Linked DNA regions of Homo sapiens. The protein of the gene in region 5 purifies or fractionates together with the protein of the main gene of each other region. This does not show direct contact. Each region holds a gene or a part of one and is shown on either strand. Other genes may lie near its edges. The genes, in order: PRDX2, CANX, SLC25A13, PABPC4, PPT1, DBH and CTSD.

Region 1 (4,423 bases), on a different chromosome or scaffold from region 5:
TTTTTTTTTTTTTTTTTTTAACCAATACCCCATCTCTTAAAAAAAAAAAAAAAGAGATGGGGTATTGCTATGTTGCCTAGGCTCGACTCAAATTCCTGGGCCTAAGCAATCTTCTGCCTCACTCTCCAGAGTAGGTGGAACTACAGGCATGAGACACAGCATCTACAGGCATGAGACACAGCATCTTCCTGTCTTTTTGGCTCCTTTAGTCCCATCTTTGTCCCTCTGCCCCACCCCTACAGGTTTTTTTGTTGTTGTTGTTTTTGAGATGGAGTCTCACACTGGCGCCCAGGCTGGAGTGCAGTGGTGTGATCTCGGCTTACTGCAACCTCCTCCCGGGTTCAAGGGAGTCTCCTGCCTCAGCCTCCCAAGTAGCTGGGATTACAGGCACCTGCCACCGCACCCAGCTAATTTTTTTGTATTTTTAGCAGAGACGCGGTTTCACTATGTTGGCCAGGCTGGTCTCAAACTCCTGACCTCATGATCTGCCCGCCTCGGCCTCCCAAAGTGCTGGGATTACAGGCGTGAGCCACCGCGCTCGGCCTGTTTGTTTGTTTTTTTGAGACAGGGTCTTGCTGTGTCACCCAGGCTGGAGTGCAGTGGTGCGATCACAGCTTACTGCAGCCTTGACCTCCCAGGCTCAAGTGATCCTCCAGCCTCAGCCTCTTGAGTAGCTGGGACTATAGGCATGCTTCACAAACCAAGCTAATTTTTTTTTTTTTTGAGACTGAGTTTTGCTCTGTTGCCCAAGCTGGAGTACAACGGTGCGATCTCAGCTCACTGCAACCTCTGCCTCCTGGGTTCAAGCGAACTCCTGCCTCAGTCTCTCAAGTAGCTGGGATTACAAGTGTGCACCACCACGGCCAGCTAATTTTTTGTGTTCTTCGTAGAGACGGGGTTTCACCATGTTGGTCAGGCTGGTCTCGAACTCCTGACCTCAGGTGATCCACCTGCCACAGCTTCCCAAAGTGCTGGCAATACAACCGTGAGCCACTGAGCCCGGCCCCTTTGTCCACCTTGGTTGAATGTCAGGCGTTATTTGTCTCCTACCACATTAGAAACATCCTGCAGACAAAGCCCTGAGCTGAATCTTCTTTGGGGCCCTAACACCCATCTGGACAGGTAAGAGGACAGGCAGTGAATGTTTGCATGAGTGACGGAGGCGCTCAGTATGTACCCATGTGTCATGTGTGTATCTGCTCACCTTCCCCATGCTCGTCTGTGTACTGGAAGGCCTGGACCAGCCGCAGAGCCTCATCCACGGAGCGTCCCACAGGCAAATCATTAACAGTGATCTGGCGAAGGACACCCTTGCCATCGATGATAAAGAGGCCCCTGAAGACATCAGGGTTCCCAGTGAGGAGCTGATAGCTCCCACTGCCAGAGACAAGGAAGGGACTACCAACCACCCGCTGCTAGCCACAGGGCTGGGGGCAGAGAAGACATTGTACAGGAGTGGTCCCAGCATCACAGGAATGGGGGGCAGGGCGCTCCCTGAGCCGGGCTGAGGGTCCCACAGTACCTGTAGGCAATGCCCTCATCTGTTTTCAGCACGCCGTAATCCTCAGACAAGCGTCTGGTCACGTCAGCAAGCAGGGGGATGTTCAGGGGGCCCAAGCCTCCCTCTTTCCGGGGGGTGTTGATCCTGGGAGTAGGGGAGACAGAGTTGGGGCCTCAGGATGCCTGGCACAGCAGGGTCCTCACCCTGTGGGCCCAATGTGATAAGCACTGGAGGCCGGAGATAAGGGGCTTTAGAGTAGGCCGCTGGGAGCCTCACCCACCCCACCCTGGGTTGGGTGCAAGGACTGTATCCCCATGGCTGGGAAGACTGAGTTTGAGAGGCACAGCTCCAGCTAAGTGGCTTCACATGTACTTGTAACTTGCAGCATCACCCAGCAGAGAGCCTGTGTTAAGAGTCCCCATCCTCCTCTAGCTGTGTCATGGGGTACAGCCCTTCACTTCGGTGAACTGGAGTTTCCATCTTCATGAAATAGGGCAGCACAGCCTCCCTCCTGGGAACTAAGTACATAGAGTAGATAGAGTTGCATCTGAGTTGCATCTGCAACTCTATATACCAGGCAACTAGTTGTCAAATGCTAATTACTGTCATCATCCTTAAAGACTTGGGCGGCAATGTTTCCATTATTTTCACGATGGGGAAACGCAGGTTCCAGAGGTTGAGCAATGGCCACGAAGCCACACTGCTAGGACCTGAGGGTGTGAGCTTAGCTGCAACCTCCCTCTTTGGCCCCTGCTCATACCAAGCCAGGTGGGTGAACTGAGAGTCCACCGAGACGCCCAGCACTTCACAGCCCAGCTTGCGGAAGTCCTCTGCACGGTTGCTGAACGCGATGATCTCGGTGGGGCACACAAAAGTGAAGTCCAGAGGGTAGAAAAAGAGGACCACGTACTTCCCTGGGGAGGAGGGACACAGAGGAGTTAGGGCCCAGCTTCTCTCATGCACGGCCCCGCTTCTACCTGGGCCCCCTCCGGGCGGCGCTCACCTTTGTAGTCCGACAGCTTCACCTCTTTGAAGGCGCCATCAACCACCGCTGTGGCCTTGAAGTCAGGGGCTGGCTTTCCGATGCGCGCGTTACCGGAGGCCATGACTGAAAGCTGAGACCCCCGCCCGGTCAGTGCGCCCGGGAAGACACTTTGTCCTCCCAACCCAAGGTCGCGCTGCGTGCTGGGCCCTATGACTGAGTCAGCACGGCGGAGGCGACAGCACTAACCCTCACCCTCCCGGGTACCCGGTCTACGAGGCCCGGAGGCTGCCGGAGACCCGCTCTCCTGACCAGAGCACGAGTGACCCAGCCACTGCCACCAGCACCCCACGAGCGAGTCGGCCGGAGGGCGGTGTCGCAAGCCCCCAGCCCAGAAGGAGACAGTGAGGCCCGCACGAGCAGGGGGCGGGAAGTCGGGCGATCAGGCCTGCGCTGCAAGGCTGTGGCCTCGGTTTCCCCCGCAAGGACAAAGGAGGCCACTATAGCGGATGGAAAGCAAAGGCGGCCAGCACTAAAGTCAGGATCGGGCCAAAGCAGCCTGAAGGGGGTCCTCCCGCCAGGTGCACTCCGGGTGTTCATACCTGCGTGGGCAAAGGCTAGACGCACGGACGATCACACGCGTGGACCCGCGTTCTCAGCGCCAAGTGAGCCCTGGGCCGCGAAGCCTTTTATGCCCGGCCCGAACCAAGACGTGCACGGCGCGGGGGAGGGAGCGGACGAGCGGAGCGGTCGGGTCCACTGCGCCCGCAGGTGCGGGGGAGCGTGCGGCCGGGTCCATGCGCCTGCGGGCGGCGGGGGGAGACGCGTTGCCTTCGGCCGGGACCACTGCACCTGCCCGCGTGGGTAATGCGCCCGCCGCAGACTCCGCGCACGACTCCGCCTGGGAGCGCGTTGGGGGCCGTTGGAGTCCAGCATGGCGCGGACCCCGGGGGCGCTGCTGCTGGCGCCTCTGCTACTCCTGCAGCTGGCGACCCCTGCCCTGGTCTACCAGGACTATCAGTACTTAGGGCAGCAGGGCGAAGGTGACAGCTGGGAGCAGCTGAGGCTGCAGCATCTAAAGGGTAACCTCAGGCGGCGGGGATGACGATGCCCAAAGGCTCCCCGTTGCCCTACTTCTCCTGCTGGCTGCAAAGGGACCTTCCTCGGCGGGCTGCAAATCTCCACCCAGCTCCGCACTGGAGGCGTCCCCTTGGGCTGGTTACTTTTCTCTAAGGCTCGGTTTACTCTTGGATATATTGAAATAGATACTGCTTTAAAGCAGCTCCCAGGGGAAGAGAGGGTGTGGGCAGGACACTGAAGCTGTCACTCGGGGATAGGTGCCAGGAAGGGCAGAGACAGAGAAAGAAGGGGGCGGGCAAGCTTGGGAAATCAGAGAGGGTCCGATTGCAGAAGACCCGTGACCAGTGCAGCGAGAACGACAAGCGAAAGTCCCATATGGAAAGATTTGGGGAAAGAATGTCCAAGGAAGAGGGAATAGCAAATGCCAAGGTGAAAAGTCCTGAAGGAGAAATGGAAAGAGGTCGGTGAGGTGTGGCAGAGACATGGGTGTGGGAGGGTAGGAGGTGTCAGACCTTGGTGAGCGGTGAGTTGGGATAAGATCGGAGTTGGGATAAGATCTGTCTCATAGGGGAAAGGGGCAGATTCAGTAAAGAGCCCTTTAAAGTGATCACAGTGGCCGGCGCGGTAGCTCACGCCTATAATCCTAGCACTTTGGGAGGCTGAGGTGGGAGGATCCCTTGGTCTCGGAGACCAGACCAGCCTGGCCCACACAGCAAGACTCCATCTCTACAAAAAATATTTTAAAATTAGCCTGACTTGATGGCCCAGCACTTTGGGAGGCCGAGGCGGGAGGACTGCTTGAGCCCAGGAATTCAAGACCAGCCTGGGCAACATGGAGAGACCCCCTACTCTACAAAAAT
Region 2 (3,992 bases), on a different chromosome or scaffold from region 5:
TGCAGTGGCGCAATCTCGGCTCACTGCAAGTTCCGCCTCCCAGGTTCATGCCATTCTCCTGCCTCAGCCTCCCAAGTGGCTGGGACTACAGGCGCCTGCCACCACGCCTGGCTAATTTTTTGTATTTTTAGTAGAGATGGGGTTTCACCATGTTAGCCAGATAGTCTCAATCTCCTGACCTCGTGATCCGCCTGCCTTGGCTTCCCAAAGTGCTGGGAGCTAGGATTACAGGCGTGAGCCACTGCACCCGGCCCAATTACAAAATTCTTACAAGGTAATAGTGGGTGTCCAGCCACATTCCAGAAATGGGAATTACATACCAGGTTGAGTTCTGGTGTTTTAGAAAGCAGTTTCACATAGGCACCACCACATTCTATTCCATTTTGGAAATTAACCTCATACCTAATATCAGAGAGAAAAGCAGAAAACTGTATGGCATTTTGAAAGATCGAAACTCTCTTAATGTATTTCCTCTCTCCCTCATCTTAGTCACGTTTTATCATAGGTCAAATGTTTACCCTTACAAAGGATTCCATCTTCTATTGTTTTTGAATAGTTATCAAATGCCACAAAAATAAATAAAATTAAATTGAACATTAATGCAGATTTCCAGTAAATTTGTTCTGCAAAATCTACAAGTTATTTAGAGTCAGGAAAATGAGTAACCAGTTTCTTTCAAAATAATGCATTAGGCAGGAAAAACTATTAATTACTAGTTTTGTAATTAATTAATTACAAAAACTATTAATGCAGATTTCCGGTAAATTTGTTCTGCAAAATCTACAAGTTATTTAGAGTCAGGAAAATAAGTAACCAGTTTCTTTCAAAATAATGCATTAGCCAGGAAAAACTATTAATTACAAGGTGTTTAAATTCACCCAAAAATCCCTACCACCACTTATATAATCTCATAATTTTTTAACATAGAGTAAAAGTTACATAATGTCTTCTAAGATTACCCTTTGCAGAAAGCTTTTATCCAACAAGCATTTCACTTACTGAACAATGAGAGGCTTGGTGTCAAACAGGAAGGGCTTGTTCAGTTTAGCAGAGATGGCATGATGCTTGGCCCGAGACATCAACACAAGTCCTTTATCACCTGGAAGCTTTGACTCCTTCATTTCCTCTACCTCCCACTTTCCTACAAGACAACACAAAAAAGTTCCACTGCTTAACTCTACCTCTGAAGGTCCTTTAAATGCCAAAAAAAACACCTCCTAGTTGCATAAATATATTATACTGGGGCAGCCGTGGTCGCTCACACCTATAATCCCAGCACTTAGGGAGGCTGAGGGCAGGCGGATCACTCAAGGTCAGGAGTTCGAGACCAGCCTGGCCAACATGGTGAAACCCCATCTCTAATAAAAACACAAAAATTAGCCGGGCGTGGTGATGGGCACCTGTAATCCCAACTACTCGGTAGGCTGAGGCAGGAGAATCGCTTGAACCCAAGAAACAGAGGTTGCGGTGAGCCAAGATCACGCCACTCTATTCCAGAAGCCTGGGTGGCAAGAATGAGACTCCGTCTCAAAAAAGTAAATAAATAATAAATAAACACACTTTATTTGGCAAATATTATTCAGATATGGCTTTTTAAAACTGTAGTGTATTATACTACTGTCTAGAAATTTCCAACATTCAGTAGCACAGGTGATTAAACAGATCTAATCCTATTAAATATAAGGCTACACATGCACCCCTGAACCTTAAATAAAAAAAAAAAAAAAAAAAAAATTAGGCAACACACAAAGGTGGCAAAACTTCCATGGAAAAATCTTTTTTTTTTTTTTTTTTTTGAGACGGAGTCTCGCTCTGTCACCCAGGCTGGAGTGCAGTGGCGCGTTCTCGGCTCACTGCAAGCTTGGCCTCCCGGGTTCACACCATTCTCCTGCCTCAGCCTCCCCAGCAGCTGGGACTACAGATGCACGCTGCCACGCCCAGCTAATTTTTTGTATTTTCAGTAGAGACGGGGTTTCACTGTGTTAGCCAGGATGGTCTCGATCTCCTGACCTCGTGATCTGCCCGCCTTGGCTTCCGAAAGTGCTGGGATTACAGGCGTGAGCCACCGCACCTGGCTGGAAAAATCTTAAAGCCTACTATGTCCTTTTAAACTAGTCTTAGGAAATGCCATGGAGACAACATGTCAAACCTCTATCTGCTATTATATCTAAACCAAATGGGATTCTCACCATCATATTTGGCAATTTCATCATCGGTATCGTCTTTCTTGGCTTTGGATAAAATCCACCTGTAAATAACAAATCCCAAAATCAGTCTTAAAATGACAGTTGACTTGTGAGGGAAAATTATGTAAATACTCATTAAAGTAGGACCTATTCTGCTCTTAGCCTATTTAACCACTCTACTTCCAACCTTTAAATCTGTCACACAACTAATGATAATACATTATCTTCAACTCACAAACCTATATGAAAAAGTACCAAACCTATGAGATAATTCCACTGATGTTTTAACATCAAGAGAAAATTTTTTTCCTCAATCAAAGAACAAAATATAGGGTAGAGTGGGGGAGGGAAAGAAGTGGAAGTAAAAACCACAAATTCCAAAAGACTATTTTCCTGCATGGATGTTAACACTGAAGATATTAAAGCTAGAAATTTCAGGCCAGGTGCGGTGGCTCATGCCTGTAATGCCAACAATTTGGGAGGCTAAGGCAAGTGGACCACCTGAGGTCAGGAGTTCAAGACCAGCCTGGCCAACATGTCAAAACCCCATCTCTACTAAAAAAATAACAACACACACACACAAATTAGCCAGCATGGTGGCGCATGCCTATAATCCCAGCTACTTGGGAAGCTGAGGCAGGAGAATCACTTGAACCCAGGAGACGGAGGTGGCAATGAGCCGGTATCACGCCATTGCACTCCAGCCCAGGCAAAAGAGCGAAATTCTGTCTCAAAAAATAAATAAATAAAATAAAATAAAGTTAGACATTTCACTATAAAAGATGCTATCCAAAAAGGAATCTACTATCCCATCTTATTTACATGTCTGCCTCTAACATATATTTCTCTGGAAAACACTTACCCTGACAGAGTTCCTCTGTCAAAAGAATCAGCAAAATATACTTCCCCTGTTGGAACTGGAGCTTTGTAAGTAACCTGTGTTAAATACATAAATGAATTAAAAATTTAAATTTTCAGCAACATGCCTTTTTATCTAGAATCTATTCTCCTGGTTTGCTTTCAACTGTCACAAAAATTTCATAGCTGGCCTTCAAATTCAACCCATATAATTGGCCTCTAGCAAGACAAAGGCTGCCAGAGAGATCAATAAGTATTTTCACGAATTTTGCTTTCCCTTTGAAAACGTTCCAAATTTATCTTCACCATGTTTTTCTTTTATATTTTATTAGAGATGATATCTCCCTGTGTTGCCAAGGCTGGACTCACACTCCTGTCCTAGGCCTCCTGAGTAGTTGAGACTACATTTCCCTGCACCCGGGTATCTTCATAATTTTATCATCTCAAGACGTAAAAGGAATAGATTCAAAGACCATTTCAAACCTTGGGAGATGAAGGAGGAGCAGTGGTATCTGGTTTTGAGTCTTCTACCTCTTCAATGACATCGTCAAGGTCATCCTCAATATCAATCACATCATCATCATGTCCATCATGAGCCTCAACAATAGCAGTTCCAAGCACCAGTAACATACACAGCAACCACTTCCCTTCCATGATCTACACATAAAGAGCAAAATCAGTTAAATGTATTGCCACCTATCAAACTTCATGAAGATCACTAACCACTCTCTCATTTAAAATTAAAGCTTTTAAATCGCAGAGCTAAAAAGAACTTACTATTTCATTTCATAGATAAAGAAAGGCAGCCTAGAGAGATTAAAGGGTTTCCCTAAAATCAGTTAAAAGATTCCATTTCTGGAAAATTTCAAAATAAAACTGAAACATACACAACATCCTCATATAGAGAGGATTGGTTACACAGATGTGGGGCATTCAAATACAATTTCC
Region 3 (3,992 bases), on a different chromosome or scaffold from region 5:
TTCTTATCATGTCCTTCATTATAACTCAATGGCAGTGCAGTAAATGTGGCCTTAAAAGGTCCCTCAATGAAGCTGCTGGTCTAACTTATTCCAAGAATGTCCCTTATTGAACTGCCTTTGGGCATCACCTTTATCGGTTGATTCTGTTGGCAGCCTGAGTTAAAGGCTGTGCTCCTTGCTTTTTCCCTGGAGCATAGCTATTCCATGTTGCCAGCTGAACACAGAGCCATAGGGGTAGGGTTGGCATTCCCTCTTAAAAGTTGAGGAGCCTGGATAGGAGAGGACTTCACCTCAATGGACTGTTAGGAAATTGGGCTGAGACTCTGGGGACTCAGCAACTGTGAGAATTCCAACACTCACTACACTCACTGTGACAAATTGTTTGAATATTTAAGCAGATTTGGTATTTTCTGGATAGATGTAGCCACAACTAGCAATTAGTTTTCTGATCTGTTTCTTTCTTTGGTCTTTATACTTATTTAAATACAGCTAATTATTCATGACCTTCCTTTAAATAGTTTTAATGGGGAGATGGAGAATCTAGTCTTTGGCTGCTTTTTATTTTGAATTTTGCTATGAAGATTACTAGTTAATGGTTCAAGAAGTGTTTGTTTTCTTTCGTGAATGAACATTAATCTAAAACTCTTAGTATTCTGAGATTATCTCAAAAAGTGTCCATTCTCTTGCTGCCTACGTTTGTAGGAATAATCCTTGTGGGTTCCCTTGTTAGATCTGCCTGTACTGTTTGCGTTGTTTGAATATTTCTTTTAAACATTTCCCAAAACTGCCATAAAAAAACAGTTTTAAAAGGTGGTAATTGAGAGGTCACCCTTTTCTTCGTCTCTGCCCTTTTCTTGGTTAAAGGAGAGCTTTCTTCTTCGTCATTGGTTAAATTTATGCGTTACGAATGATGTAATTAACCTATATGAACCTACTAAAAGTTAGAATATGCTCCCTTGAGTTCAGACCTGTGAGATGTTCTGGGGTAAAACTGAACACAGACCAATATTAGCCTAGAACCAAAAGAAGGAAATTTGGGGGCACATTAAAGCATTAATAATAAAGACAATTTGGTCTGTAGGACTAGTACACTTTGTATTGACTTTTCATTCTTGGATGAGTTGTTGCTGTGATCATTGATTCATTTATGTGTATTGTGTTCTTTCCAGTGTTGCAAATGGGACAAAATTGAGAATACTAAAATGAATTGTTAGCTGGGCATGGTGGCACGCATCTGTGGTCCCGGCTACTTGGGAGGCTAAGGCAGGAGGATCACTTGAGCCCAGAAGGCAGAGGTTGCAGTGAGCTGAGATAGCACCACTGTACTCCAGCTTGGGTTACAGAACGAGATCCTGTCTCAAAAAAAAATAAAATAAAGTAAAATAAAATAATAAAATAAAATAAAATAGAATAAAATAAATAAAATGAATTGGACTCCATTTTGATGTTCAAGAAAACCAAAACCATTCCAGGGGGCTAAGTTCTCTGATGGAAATGCTCCCACTACAAGGTTTGTGGGAGCAGTAGGAGAAGAGCCCATTTCTGAGGAGATGAGGGAAGTCTTCTGAAAATTGCTAGTATTTCAGAAGGAATGGATGGGGAAGAGTAAAGATCCAATCCAGTGGTTGGAAACAAATGAAGGGCTGGGAGGTGAGAGCACAGGCTACATTTAGTTAACAGCAGGTAATAAAAACTAAAAGCAGCTGACACTTACTGAGCGCTTACTAGATACCAAATTCAGTTCCAAATGTGTTTCATTGTTGATTCATTTAAAATTCAGTTCCAACTGTGTTTCGTTGTTGATTCATTTAATGCCTCAGCCTTTTGAGTTAGTTACTATCATCCTTTTTTTATAGATGAAGGCTCTGAGATACCAAGAGGTGATGTTAGTGGCCTAAGATCTGATAAGTATGGCTGGGTACGGTGGCTCACACCTATAATCCCAGCACCTTGGGAGGCCGAGGCAGGTGAATCACCTCAGGTCAGGAATTTGAGACCAGCCTGGCCAGTCTGGCCCATCTCTACTAAAAATAGGAAACAATTAGCCGGGCATAGTGGTGCATTCTTGTAATCTCAGCTGCTCGGGAGGCTGAGGTAGGGGAATTTGCTTCAACCTGGGAGGCGGAGGTTGCAGTGAGCTGACGTCGTGCCATTGCACTCCAGCCTGGGTGACAGAGCAAGACTCTGTCTCAAAAAAATAAAATAAAATAAAAAAGATCGGATAATTAGGAAATTATCGAGCTGGGGTTCAAATCCTGCCAGTCTGGCTCCAGCAGCTGTGGCCTCACTCTGTCCACCATGTGTGCCTGGTAGTTTAGTGTGGTGGAGAATAAAGTATATGGGAGAGGTGTGGGAGATGACTTAGGAGAGGGGTAGGTGTCTCAGTGTAAACCAGACTTTTATTTGAGAACTGCCTTACCTAGTGCTTTTTGCATGCCAGGTACTTTTCCAAGAGCCTTACAAATAGTAACTCAATTAATTTTCTTAATTCTAAGAAGTAGGTGCTTTCTGTTTTTGACTTCAACTTACAGGTGAGAAAACTGAGTTAGGGGAGGTTAAGTAATTTCTCACGCTTGTGCAACAGGTAAGTGCTACAGTCTTGATTTGAACCTTGCCAATGTGTCTTCAGAGTCTCTGCTCTTAACCTCTGCGCTGCTCTCCCAGGTCTTACCAAGAGTTCCATTTGCGAAGGTGTATGTGTGAGAGTTCACATGCCATCGGGTATGGATGTGTATATTTCCTGATCATCCCAGTCCAGTAGTTCTTATCTTAGAACACCTTTGTCACTCTGTATATGCTTCATTTCAGTGTTTATTAAGTGTATTTCTCATCTCTCCAACCAGATCGCAAATCCCTGCAGGACAGGAATTGTCATATACCTTTTATTTAATTGCTTTATTGAGATATAATTCAAGTACTATACAATTTACCCATTTAAAGCATATGATTTATTGGTTTTCAATATATGCACAGAGTTGTGTAACTGTCACCACTGTCATATACCTTTAATCCAGTTTCCATTAGGATTTGGACTATAATATATATATATATATTTGGGACAGGGTCTCACTCTCTCACCCAGGTGGAAGTGCAGTGGTGTGATTATTGCTCACTCTAGCCTAGACCTCGTGGATACAAGAGATCCTCCCACCGCAGCCTCCTGAATAGCTAGGACCTCAGGCACACACCACCACACCCAGCTAATTAAAATTTTTTTTTTTTTTGTAGAGACGGGGGTCTTGCTATGTCGCCCAGGCTTTGGGCTGTATATTTAACCTCCATGTCTTCCACATTGTTCACCCATCATAAAACCCTCTTCAGAGGTTTGTCATTGAGGATAAAATATATTGAGGTTATTAAAGATATTCTTCAAATGGCAGGGTTTTTTCTCCCCTATGTAAAAACTCTACTAAGTATTTGGTGATATCATAATAAAACAAATCAGTTTTTGTGCTAGGAATGGAGGAAAGAAGGTTTGAGTTGTTTTTATGCTACCATGATGATGATTATTAAAACAAATATCTATGGCTCCACTGTTTGGGTTTTAGGGGTTCTTATCTTGTTGGAGCTGGATGGCCTTGGAATTTATGTTAACACAATGATCTTTACTCTTTCCTTCCTCAGTCCTGTCCCCTTTTACCAGGAGAGTCCTAGAAATGGAGTCCCAGAAACATTTGTTATTGGTCCAAATTCCCATGAATGCCTTTGCTTTTGGCACTGCTCTAGGCCAGTGATTCCCTACATACTGAAGTCTTCTGGACTGGTATAAAAAACTGCTGATGCCTGGGTCTCCCTCCAGAGATCATGATTGAATTGGACTTGGGTGTGGCCTGAGCCTCAGGATTTTTGAAAGCTTGACAACCACTGTTATTTTGGTGCACATTGCTTCAAGAGACCTGCTGGCTCCTTCTTGGAGTAAGAATGGAATGCAGTGAGATTAAGTTAAAGTCCCTGGTGTGTCAGTTCAAAGGAGGGGTATGTAGGGGTTTCTC
Region 4 (3,992 bases), 510 kb from region 5:
TATGTCTTAGTTAATGGCCCAGAGAGCCTCCTGAAGTGGAGGATAGGGAAGTAAAGAAGTGCATCACTCCATAACTCTCTACCAATGAGATGGGCCAGTAAGGTATGTGAATAAAAATGCCACACCATCATAATGAAAATGGGGACAATTCAAGGTATGGCTCTTCTGCTCTCTTAACAAATGCCAACTTGACTACTAGGCAGATAAGCAAGGATAGAAGATCACTCCTTACACTGATGAGGGCCAGTCAAGGGGGGGGTCATAGCAAAAACGAAAGGGTAAGAACTGGGCAAACCCACAGTTGGCCTCTGGCCAACTCCCTACTACAACTGATAACATTGCTTTCCACATTCCCAGGTTGGGAGCAAAGTCCACTAAGAGCCAGGGCAGGGCCACTAAGCCCTTACCAGCCCACGTGGCTTCCCTTCTCATCAACTAAAGGATTTTGTGGCATCTGGTACACCTGTTTAGCAAGACCGGCGTCTGCATCCGGCCATAACTCAAAATGTTCAGATGGCACCAGTTTCCATCCTGCTCCCAAAGTGCCAAGGACAAGCAGTACACCATCCCCATGTAGTCAGCATTCTCTTGTTCAAGGACTAAAATTCCTTATCTTTAAAATGAGGTTCCTACTTACCCTGCTAACTTAGTTGATATGATTATCAAAGAAAATCAAGCAAATGATGCACACTACGAAACATAGAAAAACCTTCCACTCCCCTTTCCTCTCTTTTTAAGACCAGGGTAGAAGTTCCCAAGCCCACCTCCAAAATCTTCAAAATACCTTCATTCTCAAGGAGAAAATGTGGCAGAGCTGTAGAGACAGGCCCCAAGACAAATGGAAAACAACCTGTCTGGATTTCCTCTGCTCATTCTGTAGCACCATCTGTCCCCACACCGGCACGAGGCAGCAAGGAATGGGAAAGATTCAGGTGCTCTGAGTTGGCAAGGAGGGGCTGGGTCAAATTCCTCTCCAGACTCCAGTGCTTGGGAAACAGTGTAATGTTAACCTAATGAAATGTCATTCTCCAGAATGCATCCAGAAATTTTGCTAGAAAAACGTAGTAGCTACTTTCAGAAATGAACATAATTTAAATGCTATTCCTTCAATGGGACAAATGCCAATAAGCCTATAATGGAATACCACTGCTTTCAATCCCCAGATCGCAGTATAATACCTTAGCACTGGTAATTGATCCAAAAGGAGAAAATTCTTTCCTTAATTTCTCATCATCAATAGTGTCATCCAAGTTCTTAATGTAGAGATTCACCCCCTGAAGGAAAAAGATCACTGTTAACTACACTTCTATATCACAAATATTCCCTAAGAAAGTGGTTCCCCAAGGGTGGCCCCAGACCAGGAGCACCAGCATCTTTGGGAACTTGTTAGAAATGAAATTCTCGGCCGGACGCGGTGGCTCACGCCTGTAATCCCAGCACTTTGGGAGGCCGAGGCGGGCGAATCACAAGGTCAGGAGATCGAGACCATCCTGGCTAACACAGTGAAACCCCGTCTCTACTAAAAATACAAAAAATTAGCCAGGCATGGTGGCGGGTGCCTGTAGTCCCAGCTACTCAGGAGGCTAAGGCAGGAGAATGGTGCGAACCCGGGAGGCGGAGTTTGCAGTGAGCCGAGATTGTGCCACTGCACTCCAACCTGGGCGACAGAGCGAGACTGTCTCAAGAAAAAAAAAAAAAAAAGAAAGAAATGAAATTCTTAGGCCAGACCCCAAACCCAATGAATAAGAAAAACTCTGGGGCTGGAGCCCAGCTATCTGTTTTAACAAGCTCTGCTGATGAATCTGATGCAAGTCCAAAGTTGTGAAACTACTGCCCTGAAACTGACAGGATCATCAGTGCACTCACCTTTTGTCACCTCTCCCCACAGCTGTTCTGGTGACCACTCACCCACCCCAGCAGGGGTCTTCTTGAAGCCATGCCAAACAAAGGAGTCTCATTTAAGTAAAAGGAACCTACATGGCTAAAAGCAACAGGCTGAGGCTTCCAAAATAGAGAGCTTCTTGATGAATAAACCCATCTCTTGTTTCTGGTTCTATAATAATCAGTCATATGTAGTAGGTATATATCCTTTTAAACCTCATCTTTTTAGGTAAAATGGGAAGAAGAACACACTCCAAGTCCTCAAAAAGAAAGCCCGCTAAACATAGGGGTGTTCTGCAAATATTTCACAGCAAATCCCATTGCTAGGCTGGGCCAAGACCACCTTACCTGATATCGACTAATTCTCTCCTGTTTCAACTGTTCAAATTTCCGTTTTAACTCTGCCTGCCGTTCTACTTTCTTTTGTGCACGGCCTACAAATATGATTTTACCACTTATTTCTTTTCCATTCATCTCTTCCACAGCCTAGAGAGGAAAAATATGTCTTTAAAATAAAGTTGCAGCGATGGGGTCTTATTCTGGAGGTCTAAGTCCCAAAAAATATTCTTTCTACTATAGGACTAAAAACTAAATTCACTCCACCTCTGAAGTCTGTCACACAAATCCAAACTTCCTCATCTGTAAAGTGAGGTTAATATTTAAATGGGTTATTGATCCAGATAATATAGAAATAGTACAGGTGTATAAACACAAGTGTGCTGACATGAGCCTAGGGCGATATAATATTCCGGCTGCCAGTAAATTCTGCAGGTGCTTTTGTGGGTATTTAAGTGATAAATATTGAGGGTCTGGCACAATGCTTTGCCCACAAGTAGCTGCCGTGCTGTTATCAAATCAGCACTCACTGGGCTTTAGTTCTCTCACCTTTGCAGCATAACAAACGTCTGTCCTATTCTTTCAACAACTGATAGCTGAGGTGACAGGTATGTGCCAAGTGCTTTGTAAACACCTACATGAAGTTAACATGCGGAACCCAGGAAGATGATCCCAGAGTATAGTAATGGTACATCTACTACCAGATACTCAGACCGTCCCAGCTCTAGGTAGGTGCTAGCAAGACCCTACCCATACTCTGGGGCAACCTCTTAAAAGCTTTTCCCAATCTTTGTGGTATACTCACCTTATTGGCATCCTCGTGTTTTTCGTAACTCACAAAGCCAAAGCCTTTGGATTTCCCATTGGGATCTCTCATCACCTTGACACTTAGGGTCTTACCTATTACCAAAGGACAGAACTATTAGTAACACCATCTTGAGCACAGCTCAGGAACAGAAGGCTTCCCTCTGGAAACTCACTTGAAGCAAATCTCTGGAGCAGTGCCCTCATCTCTTAAGAAAAAACAGATGGGTCTGGTAGACTGTGAAAGGAGACAAGGAACCCCAACTTACCAAACTGACTGAATAGCTCTTTCAGACTCTCATCATCCACCTCTTCCCCAAAGTTTTTGATATAAACATTGGTGAATTCCTTGGCTTTGGCTCCAAGCTCAGCTTCCCGCTCTTTGCGAGACTTGAATCTGCCCACAAATCTAAAATGAAACCATGAAGAACAGTAATTACCCAGAGGAATAAAACATGATGTCCAGGGACCCAAAGGAATACAGGTTAAAGACTGACAGGAGAGGTTAAAACACGAGATCCCCATCCACCACCAAGGAGGCTCAGAGATACCCCAAGTCCCCAGCAGAAAGAGAAAAAGGCAGGACTATCCTGTGAGGACCAGCCCCAGGGCTCCTGGCTTAGACCAGGGCTATTCCTACCACATCACACTGCCTTCATGAAGAAACCTGATGGCCATGTTTTTAAAATGTTCATTTCTGTGCAACTATGTAAATGCATAGAAAAGGTCTGGAAGGATACAAACCAAACTGTTAACAGTGGTTAATCCTAGATATGAGATTGTTGGAGTGAAGGGGCACCCTTTGCTTTTTAAATTTATTTATTTTGGTCTGTTATACTTAAAAGAAAATTTATCCATGCACTGACATTTTTGTATTTCTTTTTAGTGATATCTGTAGATCAACCACTGCACACACAGACATTATAAAGATAACCCATCCTCTGGCATACTGAATGACACAAAGGACAAAA
Region 5 (3,992 bases):
CCCTTCAAACTGTTTCAAAACAAAAAACCAAAAGACTCTCCAGATGAGTCAAATATAAACTGAGCCATCTAGTTTACCAGAACCTACCAAACCATGTTTGTGTCTGGGACATACTCAGTGCCTACTGTATCTCTCTTTTAGGTAAATCTCTAGAGAAAAATCCACCCCCAGACTGATCCATCAGGAAAGCTTCCCTCATTAAGACAGCAGCTGTGAATTTCCACCTCGCCCAGTCAGCAACCTGCCGAGCTTATCCTGTGTGTTTCAACACTAGGAGAGGGAAAGAACTTAAGGGAAGAAAGGCAAATGAATTTCAACCTCCCTAAAGGGAACTGAATCTCAAAGGCCCTGCCTCCCAAAAAAAACAGAACTTCTCTTTCCTAGTGTCTGCCCAGGACAGTTTGGGTAAACAGTCACTGCTGATTTGTTTATGAAGACCTAAACAGGAAAAAGAACGCACATCTATGGGAGCCCGGTTTGGGTGCTTACCCGCTCCTGATTTATATCTGCCAAGAAGATGCTGTGGTTGCGATACACATCCTCCTTTATGGGGTCATGCCAGTATTCGGCTTGCACGAGGCTGTAGGAAAAAAAAAGAATGAGGTGATCAAGCTACAGGTCAGTCAGTACGCCCAGGGCATGCTCAGTGCAAAGGCCACCAAGAGACTTTAAAAGGACAAAAGGCCAGCCAGGCACAGTGGCTCACACCTGTAATCCCAGCACTTTGGGAGGCTGAGGCAGGTGGATCACGAGGTCAGGAGTTCAAGACCAGCCTAGCCAAGATGGTGAAACCCCGTCTCTACTAAAACTACAAAAATTAGCCAGGCGCGGCGGCAGGCGCCTGTAATCCTAGCTACTTGGGAGGCTGAGGCAGGAGAACTGCTAGAACCCCGGCGGCAGAGGTTGCAGTGAGCTGAGATCGCAGCACTGCACTTCAGCCTGTGCGACAGAGTGAGACTCTGTCTCAAAAAACAAGGACAAAAGGCCAAAGCCCTCAAGTCCCAGGCCTTACCCTTTAATACAGAAGACAAGACTTGCACCTAGGAAACAGTCTGTCAACAAGACACCTTGTTGAGACAGACTGTTCAGCATAGTACAGAAATTATAAAAGATTCAGGCAAAGGACTCATCAATATTTGCTTCTCCTGTGACACTGGGGTTTATCATACTTATCATGCTGATATGGTTTGGCTGTGTCCTCACCCAAATCTCATCTTGAATTGTAACTCCCACAATTCCCATATGTCATGGGAGGTGACTGAATTACAGGGGTGGGTCTTTCCTGTGCTGTTCTCGTGACAGTGAATAAGTCTCATGAGATCTGATGGTTTCAAAGAGGGGAGTTGGGCCAGATTCTGTGGCTCATGCTTATAATCCCAGCACTTTGGGAGGCCAAGGCGGGCAGATCGCCTGAGGTCAGGAGTTCGAAACCAACCTGGCCAACATGAGGAAACCCCGTCTCTACTAAAAATACAAAAATTAGCCAGGCACGGTGGCATGTGCCTGTAATCCCAGCTACTTGGGAGGCAGAGGGAGGGAGAATCGCTTGAACCTGGGAAGCTGAGGTTGCAGTGAGCCAAGATCACGCCATTGCACTCCAGCCTGGGAGACAGAGCGAGAATCCATCTCAAAAAATAAATAAATAAATAAATAAATAAATAGAAAATAAAATTAAGAGGGGAGTTTCCCTGCCCAAGCTCTCTTCTTTTGTCTACCGTCATGTGAGATGTGCCTTTCGCCTTCCGCCATGATTGTGAGGCTTCCCCAGCCACATGGAACTGTAAGTCCATTATAAACCTCTATTTGCCCAGTCTCGGGTATGTCTTTATCGGTAGCATGAAAACAGACTAATACAGTAAATAAGTACCAGTAGAGTGGGGTGCTGCTGAAAAGTTACCCAAAATGTGGAAGTGACTTTGGAACTGGGTAACAGGCAGAGGCTGGCACAGTTTGGAGGCCTCAGAAGAAGACAGGAAAATGTGGGAAAGCTTGGAACTTTCTAGAGACTTGTTGAATGGCTTTGACCAAAAGCCTGATAGTGATATAGACAATAAGGTCCAGGCTGAGGTAGTCTCAGATGGAGATGAGGAACTTGCTGGGAACTGGAGCAAAGGGGACTCTTTATACTTTCTTTCCAATCTCTCTCCACTTCCTCTTCCCTTCCAGCCCCCACCTCCTCAAAATGGGCACGGTTACCCCAAGGCCTCACATGGGGAAATTCGAACAAACTCTATCCCAGGTTGGCAGGGAGAGAAATCAAAATTTCTACAACATACGCTCCGTAGCCAGAGTGGAAGAGCTGCCCAGAGGCAGTGGTCCTGAAAACGCCACTCGGTGGAGCAGGCTGGCGCTAAAGCCCAACAGAGCCAGCTACGTCAGAGATGGAGCTCTCCCTCCCAGGAGCAGATGAGACTGAAGTTAAAGGAAGCAACAGTCAGAGTGACATTCTAGAATGTGTTTATACATGTATTTGAAACCTTTTAAAGGTTTAGAACTCTGAACATTTATAGAATGCAAAAAAAAAAAAGTTCCTGAGGAAAATTAGAAGTGTTATTTCAGTGAACACACAAATAATAAGGAAGCAAAACAGTCTTATTGCTGCTATGGAGAAAATCTGAGTGGTCTAGATAGAAGACCAAACCAGCCACAACATTCCCTTAAGCCAAAGCCTAATCCAGAGCAACGTCCTAACTCTCTTCAATTCAATGAAGGCTGAGAGAGGTGAGGAAGCTGCAGAAAAAAAGTGTGAAGCTAGCAGAGGTTGGTTTGTAAGGTTCAAGGAAAGAAACCATCTCCATAACACAGGAGTGCAAGATGGGGCAGCAAGTGCTGATGTAGAAGCTGCAGTAAGTTATCCAGGAGATCTAGCTAAGATACTTAATGAAGGTGGCGACCATAAACAACAAATTTTCAGTGTAGGTGAAACAGTCTTAAATTGGAAGAAGATGCCATCTAGGACTTTCACAGCTATAGAGGAGAAGTCAATGCCTGGCTTCAAAACTTCAAAGGACAGGCTGACTCTCTTGTGAGTGCCTCATGGAGCTGATGACTTGAAGCTGAAGCCAATGCTGGGTTACCATTTTTTAAATCCTAGGGCCCTTAAGAACTACGCTAAATTACTCTGCCTGTGCTCTACAAATGGAACACAAAGCCTGGATGACAGCAGATCTGTTTACAGTGTGGTTTGCTGACTATTTTAAGCCCACTGTTGAGACCTATTGCTCAGAAAAAAAGATTCCTTTCAAAACATTACCACGCAGCTGGGCATGGTGGCTCATACCTACAATGCCAGCACTTTGGGAGGCCAAGGTAGGAGGACCATTTGAGGCCAGGAGTTCAAGACTAGCTTGGGCAACATAGCAAGACCCCACCTCTAGAAAAGAAAATTCTTTTTAAAAGTAGCCGAGCATGGCGGTGCATGCCTGTAGTCCTAGCTACTCAGGAGGCTGAAGTGGGAGGATGGCTTGAGTCCAGGAGGTGAAGGCTGCAGTGAGCTGTGATCACACCACTGCACTCTAGTCTGGGCAAGAGAGCACAACCCTGTCTCAAAAACTATTTTTTTTAATTAAAAAAAGTTTAAAAACAAACTCAAAAAACAAACAAATATTACAGCTCATTAAAAAGCACCTGGTCACCCAAGCGCTCTGATGGAGATGTACAAAGAGATTAATGTTGTCTTCATGCCTGCCACAGCACATCCATTCTACAGCCCATGGATCAAGTAGTAATTTCAATTTTCAAGTCTTATTATTTAAGAAATACATTTACAAGGTTGTAGCTGCATAGACAGTGATCCCTTTGATGCATCTGGGCAAAGTAAACGGAAAACCTGATGGAAAGGATTTATCATTCTAGATGCCATTAAGAACATTAACGGGCTGGGTACCATGCACTTTGGGAGGGTGAGGAGGGAAAATCAGTGGAGCCCAGGAGTGTGAGACTAGCCTGGGCAACATAAATGAGATCCTATCTCTACAAAAAAATTAAAAAAT
Region 6 (3,992 bases), on a different chromosome or scaffold from region 5:
CCCAGTGGGAGGCAGGGCAGCCCTGAGGTTAGAGCCCGGGCCCAAAGCGCACCTTCAAGGCCATGCCTCTTCCTGCTGTGTGACTCTGGACACTCACATAACCTCTCTGAGTGCACCTTCAAGGACATGCCCCTTCTTGCTATGTGACCCTGGACACTCAACCTCCCTGGGCCACACTTCCTCTGCTGGAAACTAGGGGCTCTTATGATGAAGGAGGGATCACCTCGCCCCTCCCCCGGGACTAGTGGCATAGTGGACACTCGACAGCTATCGCCTTTGCTATTCTGTCTTCCCCGGACGGGTGTTCGAGAGCAAGTGAGTTCTGACTCGAGCTGCTTTTTCATGAAGGGGGAGGTGGCCTGGCAGACAGACAGCAGTTCCAGTCCCAAGGAAAGATGCAGAAGTCAAGATGTTGGTCACTTTGGTCCAGGCAGGGAAGTGGGAGCTCCAAGGCCCTTTGAGGGTAGGGGAGTGAGCAGAGTGATGGGGAAGCCAAGACCACTTGCTGCTCCCCTGCTCAGGCAGGTGCCTGAGGTTCCAGTGATAAGAGGACACCTGGTCCAACCAGGACTGTGGACAGCTCTCCAGGGTCAGGGACAACCCAGGCCCGGGAGGAAGGCAGGGCTGGGCGAGGACCTCGGCCCTGGACCCGCACGTACCTTGATAATGTGGTGCCGAGAGAAGCCCTTTGGAAGCTCCTTAATGTAGCACCAGTACGTGGTCTCCTGGCTGGGGATCTGGATATTGGGAGCTTGGACCTCCATGGTGCACGCGTCTGAGGGCAACTCCGGTTCGGGGATATTGGGCTTCAGGAGCTGCACCCTCTGCAGCCCCATCTGCAGGCCCGAGCCGTTGATGGCCTCCAGTGACCGGAACGGCTCCTCCAGGATCCCGTAGACCAAGTGGACAGTGCCGTCCTGCAGCCGAGACAGGGTTCAGCTGGTCGCCCTCTCAGAGCCCCCAGAGTTGGGCTCCTGAGAGGATGCCACATCCCTGCCCACCCACACCTACCAGGTGACACACCTCACTCTCATCTCTGTGAATAAGGGACCCTTGAGGCTTGCATGGCCCTGGCTGGGGCCAAATCCCGGGCTGACGACCCCCAGGATCCCCTATTTGCACCGGCCATCAAATACTTTTCTCTTCTAAACACATTCCACCTACATTCACTTAACATCCATTCAACCAGTGACTACTGGGCCCGCCGTGAGCCAGTGTGGCCGGAACATTTGTTCCCTCCACCAACCCCAAGGTCACTGGGGACTGGGTGTGGGGGATCATTGGTCAGTTCAGCAGCCCAGCCTGAGGATTCAGTGCCCTCTATGAAGGGAAGGAAACACCCTGGGGCTTGCTGATGGTCACGCTGAGCTGCGGAGCCACGCTATATTATGTAGTCACCACCAGCTTGGCAGGAGGGGACCAAGCAGCCACAGAAAGCTCCATGGATCTACGCGGTGCTGGAGGCCACAGGCAGACTCAGGAGGCAAGCTGTGGGGCTGGCTTCCTCACATGCTGTCATGAATGGAAACGGGGATCGGGTGTGGAAAGTGCCTTTCATAGCTTTCTGGGCACTCCACAGTGCAGACCCGTGTGGGTGGCTAATTTGCTCTTTGAGTTTGCGGAAAGCCGATGGGCCGCCCTGTGCAGGGGACGCCCAGAACTCCAGGCAAAGGCCCCTATACCTGGCCTGGGGCCACTGGGCTGAGCACACACAGGCATTGGCCTCCCCCTGTGAGGTGCTTCCAGAGGGTTCTCTGCTCACCCTTGCCTCGTCCACTGGGAAGCAGGGTAAGGGCTCAACAACCTCCTGGAAGAACACCTCTTCTGGCACCAGGTCTGCCCCAGCACACCCCGAACCCCTGGGTACATCCACTCCCCGTCTCCGGGCCTTAGTTTCCTCATCTGGCAAACAGCCAGCTGTTCTGTTTTCTTAGATTCCGTATTTGTCTATTTGGCATCTATTAATGGATTGCAGGCTCAAACAGATGGCCAGAGTTGTTTACACCTGCCCTTCCCTCCAACATTCACGCTTGTGTGAGAATCATATTCCCAACCCTCCAACCCGTCCCAAGCCCATATCCTTAGCCACCTCCTCCACCTGACTGTCACACACCAGGCCAATATTGCCTCAGCCCTAAATCACCCTAGGGCCAGGAACCAGGCAACTAGAGACCACCCCGGCCACCCAGAGCCCACCAGAATTGTCCAAATGAAGCAACTTCCCTGCCCTGCCTGGCCTTTCCCATGGAAACCCCAAGAAAGCCTCAGGCCTGGGCTCTCCCCTAGCTCCTGCATCTGCCTCCTGACCAAACCCAGGGCTCTGCAGGTGGCCCTGCACGGCACAGGTGCCCCTTCTCTCCGGAAATGCAATCAATCTTTCGATGGCACTGGCCTCCCGTGTGGTCACTCAGCTACACCCATGATTAAGACCTGGCACTAACGGCCAGCCCAGGCCACTGCCACACCAAAGGATTACTTACACAAGACAAAAGCTGTCAGGTGTGCTAGAGTTAAAAGAGTTTTGTCTTCAAGGGCAAGGTGGGTTGCTTTCCCTAAGAGGTTGGGGGGCTCTTAGAGCAGCATAAGAAGCCTATGGCTTTTACAATGTTTTATGGCTCCCATGAACTCCCAGAGTTGGTCAGGCCATACAGATCATCTAGTTCCCATCTCCATTTTACAGATGGGCAAAGTGAGGTCCAGAGGAGGGGGGCAGTTGTCCCGAGCCTCACAGCGAGCTGGCAACAGGGCCGGGATGGAAAGCCAGGTCGCCTGGGCTCCAGAATCCCACCTGATGGTTAACAGGACCAGGAGGAGAGAGACATCCAGAAGCAAGGTCTAGTCCAATGGGAGAGGCTTCAGCACAAGCCCCGCATCTAGAAACCATGTCAGCTACGTGTTGGCAAAGAGCTGCGTCTTTGAGGGCTCAGGGGCAATAGCAGAGCTGGACCATCCTAAGTGCTTTGGCCCCACCACTGCCTCTGGCCATCCTCCTTGGCTTTCTCTCTGTCATAGCTGGCCAGGCCCAGGCCCCAGACTTATCAGGGACAGGAAAGGTACTATGACATTGGCACAGGATGGCAGCATGATACACGCAGCCCACGCCCTCCTGGGTACTCGCGGCCACCCCTTACTTCAATGAGGTAATCCTTGGGGTCGCAGGTGCCAAAGGGCCTCTTGAAAAGCAGGGTCAGGCCTTCTGGGGTCCTCTGCACCTGCAGCAGCTGGTAGTCCTGCTGGGGATCCAGGTGGATCTGCCCCTTCTGGTCACTCCAGGCGTCCTGCAGAGACAAGCACTGGGCTCCAGGCATGAAGGAGCCAAGCCGGGCCAATCCACAGGGGAAGAGGGCATTCCCCGGCAGAGCTCCGCATTCATTGCCAGCTGATCTGGGGATGCTGGGCCTCAGTCCCTGTGGATCTGAGGGTTCTGCCTGGGGCTGTGGCTTCACTCACACCTTCTATCTCCATTTCTGCCTGGAGACAGTGGAGATGAGCCCCGACAGTGGAGTTGGTTCCTCCTCTGCAGCCAGGAACCAGGGCTGTCACTTGCCAGCAGGTCACAGGTTCTGTTAGCCATGGGCATTCCCGGGCCTGGCGGGCGGGACACTGAGCTTCTTAAGAAGATGCCTGAGGCTCCCAAGGCCTCCTCAAGACTGGGAACAATGCCTCAGACCAATGCTGCCCACATTCATGCAGGCAGGAGAGTTGCGGAGCCTCAGAAAGGGGAGAGTTGGGAACAGGGTGGGACATGAACAGGAAAGGAGAGAGAAACCAGGGTGCCACATCTAAGATGGTGATTGATAGCAGGTGCCCACCCTGCACTGGCACAACCCTGAGAACAAGCACTGCTTTATTACTTTATAAATACATGTAATTTTGGATTTTTTTTTTTTTTTTTTTGAGATAGGGTCTCGCTATGTTGCCTAGGCTGGTCCTGAACTCCTGGCCTCAAGCGGTCCTCCTGCCTTGCCCTCCCAAAGTGCTGGAATTACAGG
Region 7 (3,992 bases), on a different chromosome or scaffold from region 5:
GTGGTAGTGGTGGCCTTGGGGCTCCCCCTGCCAGCCCCAGCCCCAGCCCCAGCCCCCGGCGCTCACCTCGCCCTGAATCAGCGGCACGGCCCCGATGGCCTTCTGCAGCTCGCGCACCTCATCCACCGGGCCCACCATGAGGGAAGTGCCTGTGTCCACAATGGCCTCACAGCCCTCCTTGCACAGGGTCAGCCCGCTGGCCACCTCCACCCTGCGGGGAGTCAGGGCGTGAAGCCCCTGCCGGGACTGGAGTGTGCCCTGGGGGCCCAGTGCCCCTCCCTGGGAGCCCCTCCCCTGGCTGGGCTGCACTCTCCTCCCCTCAGGGCTCCTGGAAGCACAGCCGGCTGTAAGCCCTCCAGGGAAGAGGGTGGGAGAGGAGACACAGAGTGGTAGAGGGGGTGGGAGACCCTCAGGTGGTGGTGAGGGGCATGGAGGGATGGAGGGGATGGAGGGGCATAGAGGGATGGAGGGGATGGAGGGGATGAAGGGATGGAGGGGCATGGAGGGATGGAGGGATGGAGGGATAGACAGATGGAGGGGATGGAGGGTCATGGAGAGTCACAGAGGGATGTGGGGATGGAGGGATGGAGGGATGGAGGGGATGGAGGGATGGAGGGATGGAGGGGATGGAGGGATGGAGGAGATGGAGGGTCATGAAGAGTCACAGAGGGATGAGGGGATGGAGGGGATGGAGGGCATGGAGGGATGGACAGAAGGGATGGTGGGTCATGGAGAGTCACAGAGGCATGGAGGAAATGGAGGGATGGAGGGATAGAGGGAATAGAGGGGATGGAGGTGATGGGGAGCATGGAGGGGCAAGGAGGGGCATGGAGGGCTGGTCTGACCCCATCTCTTTCTTGCCCAGCTCCCACTACTCCCCACATGCAACCCCCACCTGCAGAACCGGGGTCCTCCAGGGTCTCCGCACACCGCCCCCGCCCACAGAACCCAGGGGAGCCGACTGCAGCCACTACTCACTGGTCCAGGTGGACCTGCCAGTAGGCCTTGCGGGTGACATTCAGGTAGGACAGAGAACCCTTGTAATACTTGGAGTCTGTGCCACCCAGCATCAGCTCACCCCCAGGCTGCGCATCTGGGTCCCTAGGAGGAAAAGGGAGGAGTCAGCTGCCACGCCACCCCCCAAGCACAAGAGTGCCAGGTCAGGAGTAAGAGGGTGAATGTGGCAATCAGGGAGAGCTTCCTGAAGGAGGGGCCTTTCTGAAACTGCAGGGATGGAAAGGCCCAGAAGGCAGGAGGAGGGACAGACTCCCTTCTTCCCGGGGTAGGGCTGCTCTGCGTGGGCCCAGCCTGGCCCAGAAGAGGTTTTCCTCAACCCTCAGGTTCTCCTGGTCTGCTCAGGAGCCAAGGTTCAGCCAGACATCAGGGTCAAGGCTAGCGGCAGACAAGGAAGTGAGTGCCAGGAGCTCCACTGGGGAGGACCCTGTCTGTCTGTCTGGAAGAAAAAACCAAAGAAGGCTTCCAGGAGGGAGTGATGGCACAATCTGGGAAGTTGGGATGGCTGGTTCTGGCCGCAGGGCCTCTGCACTGGCTGCTCCTGGGAACACCCTCCACCTGCATCCCCGAGCCACGTCCGCTCATCTCCCCCTCATCCAGACCACTGATGGCCAGCCAAGGTGCTCCTGGGCAGGAGCGCACTGCACTTCCTAGGACCTGCAACCCATGTCGCCCGGGTTTGTTTCTAAACATTGCTCAAGTACAGCTTTCAACGCAGCAAATCCTGCCGGTCCTGGTAGAGAAGCTCTCTGTGTCTGGGGCGGTTCTGCCATCCCGCCAGAGCGTCTGCAGCTAAGCTGGCCACCATCCCACTGCCTGTCACTCGAGGCAGTGCCAGGCCTGACCCAGTCCTCCCAACACCGATTGGGGCCTCCGCCCTCCTCCAGCCTCCTCCGCCTTTGCCTCTTGTCAACACCTCTGCAATCCCAAGTGTAGAAACCTGATCAGCGCCTCCCACCCCTCCTCTCCTCACCAAACATGCTTTCAGAAGCCCTCAGACCCTCCCTCCTGCCTGGCTCCACTTCCTGCCCAAGCTGCTGCCTTGAGACTACACCTGGGCACTCACAACCATGTGCACCTCCCCCACCTGGGCACTCACTCTGTGTGCCCCTCCTTCCACCTGGCACTCATGCCTGTGTATGCCTCCCCCGACCTGGGTACTCATACCGTGTGCCCCTCCCCCACATGGGCACTCATGCTGTGTGCCCCTCCCCCACATGGGCATTCATGCCTGTGTCCCCCTCCCTGACCTGGGTACTCAGGCTGTGTGCCCCCTCCCCATGTGGGCACTCATGCCTGCATGCCCTCTTGCCCTCAGGGGACCCCTTTTCACCTGGCTGCCTCCCCTGTGCCCCAAGGCTCCTGGGGAAATGGCCCAGCCGGTTCACCTGTGTCCTGGCCTCTAGTGAGCAGCTTAGCCCTGGGTGTTGCTAAGGAGTATTCACTGCCCAGGCAAGGGGCAGAGCAAAGAGGCCCAGCCAGCCCTACAGCCGGAATTCTGCCGGAAGCGATCCAAGGTTAGGGGTCAGGCCCAGAGACTCCAAGTGCCAAGTGAGCCACGTGAGGTAAACCTGCCCCTGTCAGCCCTGGAGAGTGTGGGGCAGTGACCAGGCGCAGCTCAGGGCAGGAGGCCGCCGGCTGACACGCTGCCCACCCCCAAAACAAAAGCCCCCAACCCCCAGTCACCCCTCTTATGTGGAACCCTCCACTCAGGTCTGCCCCGAGAAGAGGAAACTAACTGAGTCCGACGTCCCCTTCCCAAGGTCACCTGACCATGGGTCACCCAAGCTGGAGCAGCGGCTGCAGGTGGGGGCCCTGGGGGAGAACCCTTTTCCCAGAAGGAAGGGCCCCCTATGTTCCTCCTCGAGGGCAGCCGGCACCTGCTGGGGACGCCCACAGAGCTGCTCGCAGCGTGGTGCCGGGGACCCATACGCACCCAAGGTCACCTCCCCGGGGATCCCCGGTCCCCTGGGCACCATGACCCTCTCCACCATCAGCAACCCCGGGACCAGGACCACATGTGCCCATCACCAGGTCTGGGGACCGACGGGCCGACTGAACCAAGAGGAACTGCCACGACCCCTGACCTGGGTCCATTCTCATAGGAGGGAGGCCCAGCTGCCAAGGTCCCAGGACCCACAGCCTGGCCCGAGCCCCTCCCACTGGGAGACCCCGGCCAAACAGCTTTCTCTGTGCTGCCGCTTACTCCTCTGCAGAAGGGCGGCCAACCCCCGCCTCCCGGATGCCCTGAGGTCAGAGGTCAGGAGCTCTGGCACAGCAGCAGGGAGGGGGCAGCACTGAGAGGGGGTGCCTAGAAGGCTCCCCGTCCAGCCCCGCCCTGCCTCCCAGCAACGCGGAGCGAGAGGGAACCCACACGCCCACCTGCTCAGGTAGAAGGAGAAGATGTTCTGGTCCACCAGCTTCTGCTGCATCAGGTTGTCGAAGACGGGCAGCACGTTGTTGACGGAGATGCGGGGGTAGGCCATGCCCAGGATGCCATCGAACTTGGCTGCGATGAAGGTGATGCCTGGCTGCTTGGTGGCCTCCCCAAAGACCTGCCTCTCCACTTTGACACCGCCCAGGGCAGAGGCTGACGACGCTGACTGGCAGGGCACCTGCAGGCCAGGGCAGAGTCAGTGGGCAGCAGACAGGCTGAGCCCTACACCACTCCCTGAGCATGAGGCTACAAAACCCAGTTCAATGGATGCCCATCCCACACACGATGGGGCCCAGAGGGCCCAGAAGAAAGGGCTGGAAACCCTGAGCTGAACACCGCTGGGGATGGGGACACGGGGTATGGCGGGGCCCTCTTCGTGGAAGTCATCAGGGCTCGGTTTACACGAGATGGGAACCAGGCAGGAGCACAGACGGGCAGGCCCCTTGCTCCGCTCCCTGCTCCGACCTCTTACTCCCACCACCAATGACAGGCAGGTCCTGCTCCTGCCCTCAGCGCTGGGAACAAGACACAGCCTGGGCCA

Evidence for each region.
Region 1: the proteins of PPT1 (region 5) and PRDX2 purify together in Homo sapiens (affinity purification with mass spectrometry, with the first as the bait; 2 studies listed by BioGRID). This does not show direct contact.
Region 2: the proteins of PPT1 (region 5) and CANX purify together in Homo sapiens (affinity purification with mass spectrometry; 3 studies listed by BioGRID and IntAct, with this or other methods). This does not show direct contact.
Region 3: the proteins of PPT1 (region 5) and SLC25A13 purify together in Homo sapiens (affinity purification with mass spectrometry, with the first as the bait; 2 studies listed by BioGRID). This does not show direct contact.
Region 4: the proteins of PPT1 (region 5) and PABPC4 purify together in Homo sapiens (affinity purification with mass spectrometry; 2 studies listed by BioGRID, with this or other methods). This does not show direct contact.
Region 6: the proteins of PPT1 (region 5) and DBH purify together in Homo sapiens (affinity purification with mass spectrometry; 2 studies listed by BioGRID, with this or other methods). This does not show direct contact.
Region 7: the proteins of PPT1 (region 5) and CTSD purify together in Homo sapiens (affinity purification with mass spectrometry, with the first as the bait; 2 studies listed by BioGRID). This does not show direct contact.

Annotation. Positions count from the first base shown.
Region 1 is NC_000019.10:12,798,655-12,803,077, forward strand, and holds the start of PRDX2 (peroxiredoxin-2), read right to left. Parts: upstream 3,147-4,423; 5' UTR 3,086-3,146; intron 2,617-3,085; 5' UTR 2,608-2,616; coding exon 2,505-2,607; intron 2,416-2,504; coding exon 2,262-2,415; intron 1,646-2,261; coding exon 1,523-1,645; intron 1,336-1,522; coding exon 1,205-1,335; intron 1-1,204. Other genes in the region: THSD8 (thrombospondin type-1 domain-containing protein 8 precursor), read left to right, coding at 3,418-3,565.
Region 2 is NC_000005.10:179,705,388-179,709,379, reverse strand, and holds part of CANX (calnexin isoform d precursor), read right to left. Parts: intron 3,702-3,992; coding exon of another isoform or gene 3,699-3,701; coding exon 3,528-3,698; intron 3,123-3,527; coding exon 3,049-3,122; intron 2,249-3,048; coding exon 2,190-2,248; intron 1,142-2,189; coding exon 1,000-1,141; intron 403-999; coding exon 321-402; intron 1-320. UniProt on the Homo sapiens protein: Calcium-binding protein that interacts with newly synthesized monoglucosylated glycoproteins in the endoplasmic reticulum. It may act in assisting protein assembly and/or in the retention within the ER of unassembled protein subunits.
Region 3 is NC_000007.14:96,315,187-96,319,178, reverse strand, and holds part of SLC25A13 (electrogenic aspartate/glutamate antiporter SLC25A13, mitochondrial), read left to right. Parts: intron 1-3,992. UniProt on the Homo sapiens protein: Mitochondrial electrogenic aspartate/glutamate antiporter that favors efflux of aspartate and entry of glutamate and proton within the mitochondria as part of the malate-aspartate shuttle.
Region 4 is NC_000001.11:39,566,573-39,570,564, forward strand, and holds part of PABPC4 (polyadenylate-binding protein 4), read right to left. Parts: exon of another isoform or gene 3,908-3,992; intron 3,431-3,907; coding exon 3,291-3,430; intron 3,118-3,290; coding exon 3,023-3,117; intron 2,368-3,022; coding exon 2,230-2,367; intron 1,275-2,229; coding exon 1,179-1,274; intron 939-1,178; exon of another isoform or gene 802-938; intron 1-801.
Region 5 is NC_000001.11:40,079,908-40,083,899, forward strand, and holds part of PPT1 (palmitoyl-protein thioesterase 1 isoform 1 precursor), read right to left. Parts: intron 581-3,992; coding exon 490-580; intron 1-489. UniProt on the Homo sapiens protein: Has thioesterase activity against fatty acid thioesters with 14 -18 carbons, including palmitoyl-CoA, S-palmitoyl-N-acetylcysteamine, and palmitoylated proteins. In contrast to PPT2, PPT1 can hydrolyze palmitoylated proteins and palmitoylcysteine.
Region 6 is NC_000009.12:133,639,132-133,643,123, reverse strand, and holds part of DBH (dopamine beta-hydroxylase precursor), read right to left. Parts: intron 3,279-3,992; coding exon 3,132-3,278; intron 918-3,131; coding exon 660-917; intron 1-659. UniProt on the Homo sapiens protein: Catalyzes the hydroxylation of dopamine to noradrenaline (also known as norepinephrine), and is thus vital for regulation of these neurotransmitters.
Region 7 is NC_000011.10:1,753,928-1,757,919, forward strand, and holds part of CTSD (cathepsin D preproprotein), read right to left. Parts: intron 3,630-3,992; coding exon 3,397-3,629; intron 1,102-3,396; coding exon 979-1,101; intron 212-978; coding exon 67-211; intron 1-66. UniProt on the Homo sapiens protein: Acid protease active in intracellular protein breakdown. Plays a role in APP processing following cleavage and activation by ADAM30 which leads to APP degradation.